2 linked regions of the Homo sapiens genome follow. The protein of the gene in region 1 interacts with the protein of each later gene in a pairwise test. Each region holds a gene or a part of one and is shown on either strand. Other genes may lie near its edges.

What was found.
Region 2: the proteins of TMEM207 (region 1) and MGST2 interact in binary tests that used the Homo sapiens proteins (3 or more experiments, as listed by UniProt).

Annotation. Positions count from the first base shown.
Region 1 is NC_000003.12:190,442,995-190,446,916, reverse strand, and holds part of TMEM207 (transmembrane protein 207 precursor), read left to right. Parts: intron 1-3,922.
Region 2 is NC_000004.12:139,663,859-139,667,780, forward strand, and holds the start of MGST2 (microsomal glutathione S-transferase 2), read left to right. Parts: upstream 1-1,960; 5' UTR 1,961-2,161; coding exon 2,162-2,219; intron 2,220-3,922. UniProt on the Homo sapiens protein: Catalyzes several different glutathione-dependent reactions. Catalyzes the glutathione-dependent reduction of lipid hydroperoxides, such as 5-HPETE.

The sequences.
Region 1 (3,922 bases):
TCTTATGCTGTTTGTGATGTAACAGAGTATTTGATTGTTTGCATGCTTATCTGACTCAGGATTTCCTGGCTGCCCTTATCTTATCTCCTCATCTTCTGCCTTTGACCCAGACTAACAAAATAAAGAAGTTCAGAATTGGAAAGGATCTTAAATGTTGAATCTAACTCTAATCAACGTGACAGAAACATACGGTATTAAGAAAGTTTTTATGCTGACTTTAGCGGTAGCTGAGGCTACCGCTCTCCCTTTTAGGTGAAGGGATTGAAACCTAAGAGAAATAGTAAATGAGTAGTAGGGCTTCAACTGGTACTTAGGCATCACATTCTCTGGCTACATCATTTTGCAACTAAGTGTCTGTAATGGTTATCATTATTCAATACAATTGCTTTTGAGTAAAAACAAAAAAAAATTAACCCTCAAATGAAATGTAAATTGGCAGAAAATAAACACAAAAAAGAGAGTGGCTGGGAATGTAGGGTGGTCATATAAGGTAAGTAAATGTATTGAAGACGTGCACAATATCTCAAATCTTTTGTTATCGCAAGACAGTGTCAGCGGAATGAATCTGTAAGGAAAGTCATGCTGTTTTCTGAGGGAGTAAAAAGTCCCCTCCAAGAAAAATCCTCTTTCTCTAACTATATTTATACAAGAGATTTCAGTTTCAAATCACTTCTTTGATCTGAGACATTATCTCCTGATAAAATACACTACCCAGCCAAGAGACCATATTCATCCATTTACCAGCACTGCTATAAGAGAGTAACACACAAACATGGCAGATTACAGTGAAAAGGACCGTAAAGATGGCCTACTCCAAATGTCTTTTAAAAAATGAGAAACACAAAAGGACAGTAGCTTGTCCAAAGTTCACATGCAAAATGGACACAGAAAAGGGAGACTTGGATTGGAATGCAAGGGAGCATCAAAGTAAAAACATGAAACATGGATCGCCTAGGTAGAGGCCATGGTGGAGGAGGTGCTGATTAGCTAGAAATAAAAACATATGTATTAATCAACTTCTATGTTCCAAGAATTGTGCGAAACAATTTGCATATATTTTCCATTAAAACAAACAAACAAACAAAACTGGTCGACCGGGCGCAGTGGCTAACCCTGTAATCCTAGCACTTTGGGATGCCAAAGTGGGTGGATCACCTGAGGTGGGGAGTTCGAGACCAGCCTGGCCAACATGGTGAAACCCCATCTCTACTGAAAATACAAAAATTAGCCGGGCATGGTGGCACGCACCTGTAATCCCAGCTACTCAAGAGGCTGAGGCAGGAGTATCGCTTGAACCTGGGAGGTGGCGGTTGCAGTGAGCCGAGATCGCACCACTGCACTCCAGCCTGGGTAACAGAGCGAGACTCCGTCTCAAATAACAACAACACTGGTCTATTTTATTATTCCCTATTTAAATTTGTTTTCAACACCAGGGTACGTTTTTCTGATCCAATCCAATTATTTTACTTTTCTAACTGTATTTTTAACATGAACAAAGCTTTGCTGTGCTGTCTTTGTATAAAATTTAAATGCTATAAGTAATTTATTTTATGAAATAAAGCATGACAGAGCCCCTCTTATCATACTTCTGACTTAGTCCTCTTCTGATAAATAGCCAAGGACACTGATGTGCATGAATGAACAAAAATAGATTGATTTATGAAATATAAATATGACTATACATATAAAAGATTCTGTAAATTAATTGCATTGATAGATTTTCTAATGATATACCACATCTTGCTTGGCTTGATAAAGTGAAATATCTTACTCAAGAGTAGGAAAGCAAGTTAAAAGGCAGAGCTTGGACTTGGACCTGGGACAGACTCCTGAGCCCAGAATTTCAACCACAAAGTTATATTGTATATCCAACATTTAATCAATTATACATCTGGTGAAATACCTGAGATATGCATAGTCCATTCATTCTTTGAGATACTATACAATTTACTACCAGTTTCTGGGTAATATGATTTGTGACTCATCCATCCCTCAAATTACTGTAGCTGAATTGCACTTTGGCCTATGTTGAGGAATGACTTTTTAAAAATAAAAAAAAATTCATGCAATTTGTTACTGAATTTATTCTGAGAATACTATGGAAAACATTGTTCTTATGTTAACAGTGTTCTCTTTATGAGGCCTCATAGCTTGAATTTTTCTCTGGTTTCGATGCCAGGAATAGTTGTACATCTGGTGAGTAATGCTGTTCATTTTGTTAATTTTAGAGGACACTATATAACCAATATTCTCTCTCATTATGCTAGCTGCTAGGAAGCTTAAGTCAGATCTACAGTTCAATTCAAATTTTATATACGGTATTTACTATATTCGGTTTACAAACTGATCTCACTATTGGCCTATTCTCTGTCTGATCCTCACCAGGCTCTCATTTCTATTTTTTTTTTTTTTAATTTTCAGTATTTCCTTAAAGCATTTGGAACACGGGATACTGGATTCATTCAGGCAATACTCCACATGGTACTATGAGGTTAGAGCTGGCTATTACTGTCCCAGTCGCACCACGACATGGTGATAAGAGACATGAACTCTGCAGACAGAGCATTTGGGTTGAAAACCTACTTCTACCACTTCCAGCTATGCTAACTTGCGCAAGTTACTTAATGGCTCTGTGACTGAGTTCTCTCAGTTGTAAAAGGAGAATTATAATAGTATGACCCTACTGTATAGTGGTGTAAGTTTGAGAGTCCGTTATTTCACATGAAGTTACGCATCTGGTTTTAGAAGAGTGTCTGCCCTAGAAAATGCTGAGTGATGTAACAGAGAAACCAATGAAGCAACTCTGCATATTTCTTCCTGAATTTATCAAATTCATAAATGTGTAATCTAAGGTCCACAGATTCTCAGCACAGAGAAGAAGAATAAAGATCAACTCATCTAACCATTCGTATTGCACAGAAATCATCTCCATGACATCAAAGTAACAAAAGGAAATCGTTCTGATAAGGACAGAAATTATCTCCCTCAACAATTAATTCTAGATAATTCTTATTCCAAATGTCTTTCTTACGCATTATAGTCAGCTCTCACTTCCCCCCGATGATTTTCTTTTTACCATAATCATACCAATTTGACCAATCCCTGAGGAATAATTTCATTTTCAAAAATATAACCTTTCCTATACTGAATATCTTGGAAGTAATATTTGAGTAATTAGAATACTCTTACTTTTTTAGGAACTCAAAAAGTTTCTGTTTACAACTTGAATTTAAGAGAGAAATGGAAATAATGATTCGAGGAGGGGAGCATATGGAGCCAAAAGACACATGTTCCAGTGTAGTTCTCTGACTACGTAGTGAATTCCCCTCTTCCTCTCTCCACCTTAAGTCTCAGTGGTACACTGTGCAAAATCCTAAAGGTCAATAAATGATCTCAAAGATGCCTGCGATTTGGAGCTTACATGATTACTGCACTTCTCCAGCTAACTGCTTCCTAGCCATGTTATTTCTTATCAGAAACTCCACCAGAGGGTGCACCAGCTCAGAAAAAAAAGTGAAATAAAGTTGGTTTGGAAAATTGTTAGCCCAGGAAGAAAAAAAAATAGAGGGCCTTAAAAATTAGATTTAAGAAACACAATGAGGTGGTTAATATTTAGAATTGAGTTTAACGATAAGTAAAGGGGCTATTTTCAAACAGAAAAAAAGTAAAGGAAGAGGAGGAAGATGAAATAATCCATACTCCTGACCATGAGCTTAGATGTCACAATTCAAAAAAGAAAAACAAAACAAAACAAAACAAAAAAAAAAAAAAGCTTTTTTAATTGTGTCAGGACACCAAGAGAATTTCCCCACATCTGTCTCTTAAAAAATGTATATTTTTAAGGTTTTAATTTTTTAATACAATATTTTAAAGTTCTTTTTACTACAAAGTGATTCGTGTACATTACAATAATTCAAACAAT
Region 2 (3,922 bases), on another chromosome or scaffold:
TGTTATTCCTTCTTTCCTGTATATGTGTAGTTCCATGAATTCTACTTTGAACTGGTTATAACATCTTACTGGTTCCCTCATGAATGAGTTACATAAAAATTTTGATATGTTTTCATTTTATGTTGTATGAAAGGCATGATTTTTGCCTCTGAAAGTATTTTTTAACATTAGGTACATTATATGCTAAGTACTTGTCTAGATACTTTATGTGTTTATTTTGCAGACACACAGAACACATTTGTATATGCCAGGTGCTGTTTTAAGTGCTCTATAAGTATTAACTAATTCAATCCTTAGAATAGGATTATGTCATTTAAACTTCTCTTCAGCTCTTATTAGCCCTATCTTATTAAATGGAGGCTCAGAGAGGCCCAAGGTTGTGTTATTAAATTGTAGGGTCTGTGTGAGGCTGAGGCAACTGCCCTCCCCAGAAGACACTGGGAGCTCCCTGCTAGGGACTAAATGTTTGTGTCCCCTCTGCAATTCATATGTTGAGACCCTAACCCCCAACGTGATGTTATCAGGCATTTGGCAGATAATTAGCTACAGGTGAGGTTATGAGCATAGGCCCCCATAATGGGATCTGTGCCCTTATAAGAAGTGACCAGGAAGCTTACTCTTTCTCTGTCTCCAACATGAAGGTGTCCTTCTGCAAACCAGGAAGAGGGCCCTCACCAGGAACTGATTGGCCAGCACTGTCATCTTGGACTTCCCAGCCTTCAGGACTGTGACGAATAAATTGCTATTGTAAGCCACCCAGTCTATGGTATCTTTGTTATAGCAGCTTGAGCCAAGATATACCCTCTAATGGTGCTGTAGGATGGGGTGAGGAAAGGCCCCCAGCTCTGGTTTTTGGGAAGCTGCATCTTTATTTTTATTATTTGTTTGAGACAGGGTCTCACTTTGTCACCCAGGCTGAAGTGCAGTGGAACGACCTTGGCTCACTGCAGTCTCAGGCTCCTGGGTTCAAGCAATCCCCTTGCCTCAGCCCCCTAAGTAGCTGGGACTACAGGCACGTGCCACCATGCCCTGCTAATTTTTGTATTTCTTTAAGAGATGGGGTTTTGCCATGTTACCCAGGCTGGTCTCGAACTCCTGAGCTCAAACCATCTGCCCATTTCAGCCTCCCAAACTGTTGGGATTACAGGCATGAGCCATCCTTCCAGGCCAGAATCTGCATCTCTAAAGAGCAGATTCTCCTGCCTCAGCCTCCTGCGTAGCTGGGACTACAGGTTCGTGCCACCATGCCCAGCTGATTTTTTGTATTTTTAGTAGAGAAGGGGTTTTACTGTGTTAGCCAGGATAGTCTTGATCTCCTGACCTCGTGATTCACCCTCCTTGGCCTCTTAAAGTGCTGGGATTACAAGTGTGAGCCATCGCGCCCGGCCGGTTTATTTTTTTAAAAATGGCTGGGCACAGTGACTTGTGGCTGTAGTTCTAGCTACTTGGGAGGCTGAGGCAGGAGGATTACTTAAGCCCAAGAGTTGGAGGCTGCAGTGAGCTATGATCGTGCCACCACACACTCCAGCCTGGGTGACAGATCAAGACCCTGTCTTAAAAAAAAAAAGTATGATTATTATCAGAGTCTCTAGGTGACAGTGAGAGGCAGCCTGGTGCAGGGGATAGGGCACAGTTGTAATCTGCTAGACTGGGTTCAAATCCTAAATCGGCCATTCAGAGCGTGAATACATTAGAACTGGCTTAAATTAGCATTTAAAATGTCAACAGGATTAAGTAAGTAGTTCCTTCTCACTTTTTCCACAGGAGGTGAGAAAGGTCTCAGCAAGGCCCTAGGAGGGAAGGGCGTGGGGATGAAAGGGATCCAGAGAGTCTGTGCATTGGCAGAGAAGATAGTGTAACTGGCACTGCGGCTGGAGGGCTGGTCCCACAGTGAGCTACAGCCCTGCCCGCTGGCCGTGGGAGAGGCTTAAAACAAACGCCGGAAGCAACTCCCAGCCCCATAAAGATCTGTGACCGGCAGCCCCAGACCTGCCTGCCTTCCTGACTTCTGTTCCAGAGCAAAGGTCATTCAGCCGCTTGAATCAGCCTTTTCCCCCCACCCGGTCCCCAACTTTGTTTACCCGATAAGGAAGGTCAGCATTCAAAGTCAAGAAGCGCCATTTATCTTCCCGTGCGCTCTACAAATAGTTCCGTGAGAAAGATGGCCGGGAACTCGATCCTGCTGGCTGCTGTCTCTATTCTCTCGGCCTGTCAGCAAAGTAAGAGGCATGGGAAGTTCGTGTGTGTGCGCGTGTGTGCGTGTGTGTGTGTGTGTGACAAGGCTTGCGGGAGAGAGAGGGAGGGAGGGAGATGGGTCCGGTGTTTTGTTTCCTACTTGCCCTTGCAGGTAGCTCTGGGTCCTCAGAGCACAGTCGCCTCAGGGTCACCCATGCCGCCTGCTACCCTCCTTCCCAGGGGCAAGCAGAGACTGAGAACATTCCAGAGATTAGTTCTCCCAACTGGAACGCTGTGGGGCCTCAGAGCTCAGCGATTCTGCATCATCTGTGATTACGACCCACAGCCCGTTCAAACGAGCGTTAGTAGCCTGCTAACCTGCAGGAAGTGGTGTGAATATTAATTACAAGTGTTCCAAAGGAAACGTGCCTGCTTCTAAACCTGGTTGTGATTTCTTGAACGTTGATGTTTTAATTAATGTGTTTTCTTAAATAAACTGCCTATGGTGGTATGATTATCAGATTGAAAAAAACTTCCTTCAGAAATATTAGCTTTAGATTAAGTAATTAGCTCTAAATTTTAAAACAGCTTCCCACTAGGATTATTCAATATCTCGACTGCCTGGTTAAATAGAGGGCTTTTACTCCATGGGAGTCACATTTGCTCAATTCATATTATCTTACCTACAATGTCAGCTGGGGAAAGGGGTCCGAGTGCAAGAGTGCAAGACTTCTTACCAAGCATGCATATTTCTTTATATTTCCAAGTATGCCTGTACCAGGAAATAGGGCCAAGCCGTAGACTGCTCAGGTTACACAAACAGCCAGAAGCAGGAAGGCCTCACAGCTGAGGATCCAGTCCAGGCCTCCGTGCATGCTCAATGTCTTGCCTAGCCAGTCTGTTTTGAGATTGTATGAAGATCTTGAACCTTCAGACTCACGTTTTGTGGTTTGATTCACACAATCTGTTGTGGAGAAGAGCAGGATATTTGTTTCTAATTAAAGAAGCACTTAGATCTGTTAAAAGGAAAACCCTAGACAAATTACATTTAACTGAGTTTAATTGAGCAAAGAACGATTCACAGTTGGGCATGGGGAACCGGAATAGGTTCAGAGAGACTCTGGGGCTGCCACGTGGTAGAAGAAGATTTATGGACAGAAAAAGGAAAGCGACTCCCAGAAAACGGAAGCATATAGTTCACGATGTACGGAGAAACCTTTAGGCTGAACTTAAAATATGTCAGAAGGCAGCTTTAGGCTAAACCTAATTTAGCAGGTCTAAGGCTCACTGTTGGTAGCATCCTGACTCACAGGTGCTACCAAACCTGCATGCGCCTTTATCCTAGGCCTGCAGGTCCACAGATGTCCCAAAGCTGACAGAGGTGCTCATCCTCCCTGTTTGCTGCTTGTGCAGGGGGCTGTGTGAACTGGGGCCAGAATGTTAGGGGGCTGGATGGAGTGGGGGTAGGGGTGGGGAGAGAGGAGAGGAGACTGGGTGAATGATGATTAATGGTGGACAGGGAATGTTTAATGACAAGGTGTTAGGGCCGGGCACGGTGGCTCACCCCTGTAATCCGAGTACTTTGGGAGGCCAAGGCAGGTGGATCACGAGGTCAAGAGATCGAGACCATCCTGGCCAACATGGTGAAACTCCGTCTCTACTTAAAATACACAAATTTGCTGGACATGGTGGCACGCTCCTGTAGTCCCAGCTACTAGGGAGGCTGAGGCAGGAGAATCGCTTGAAC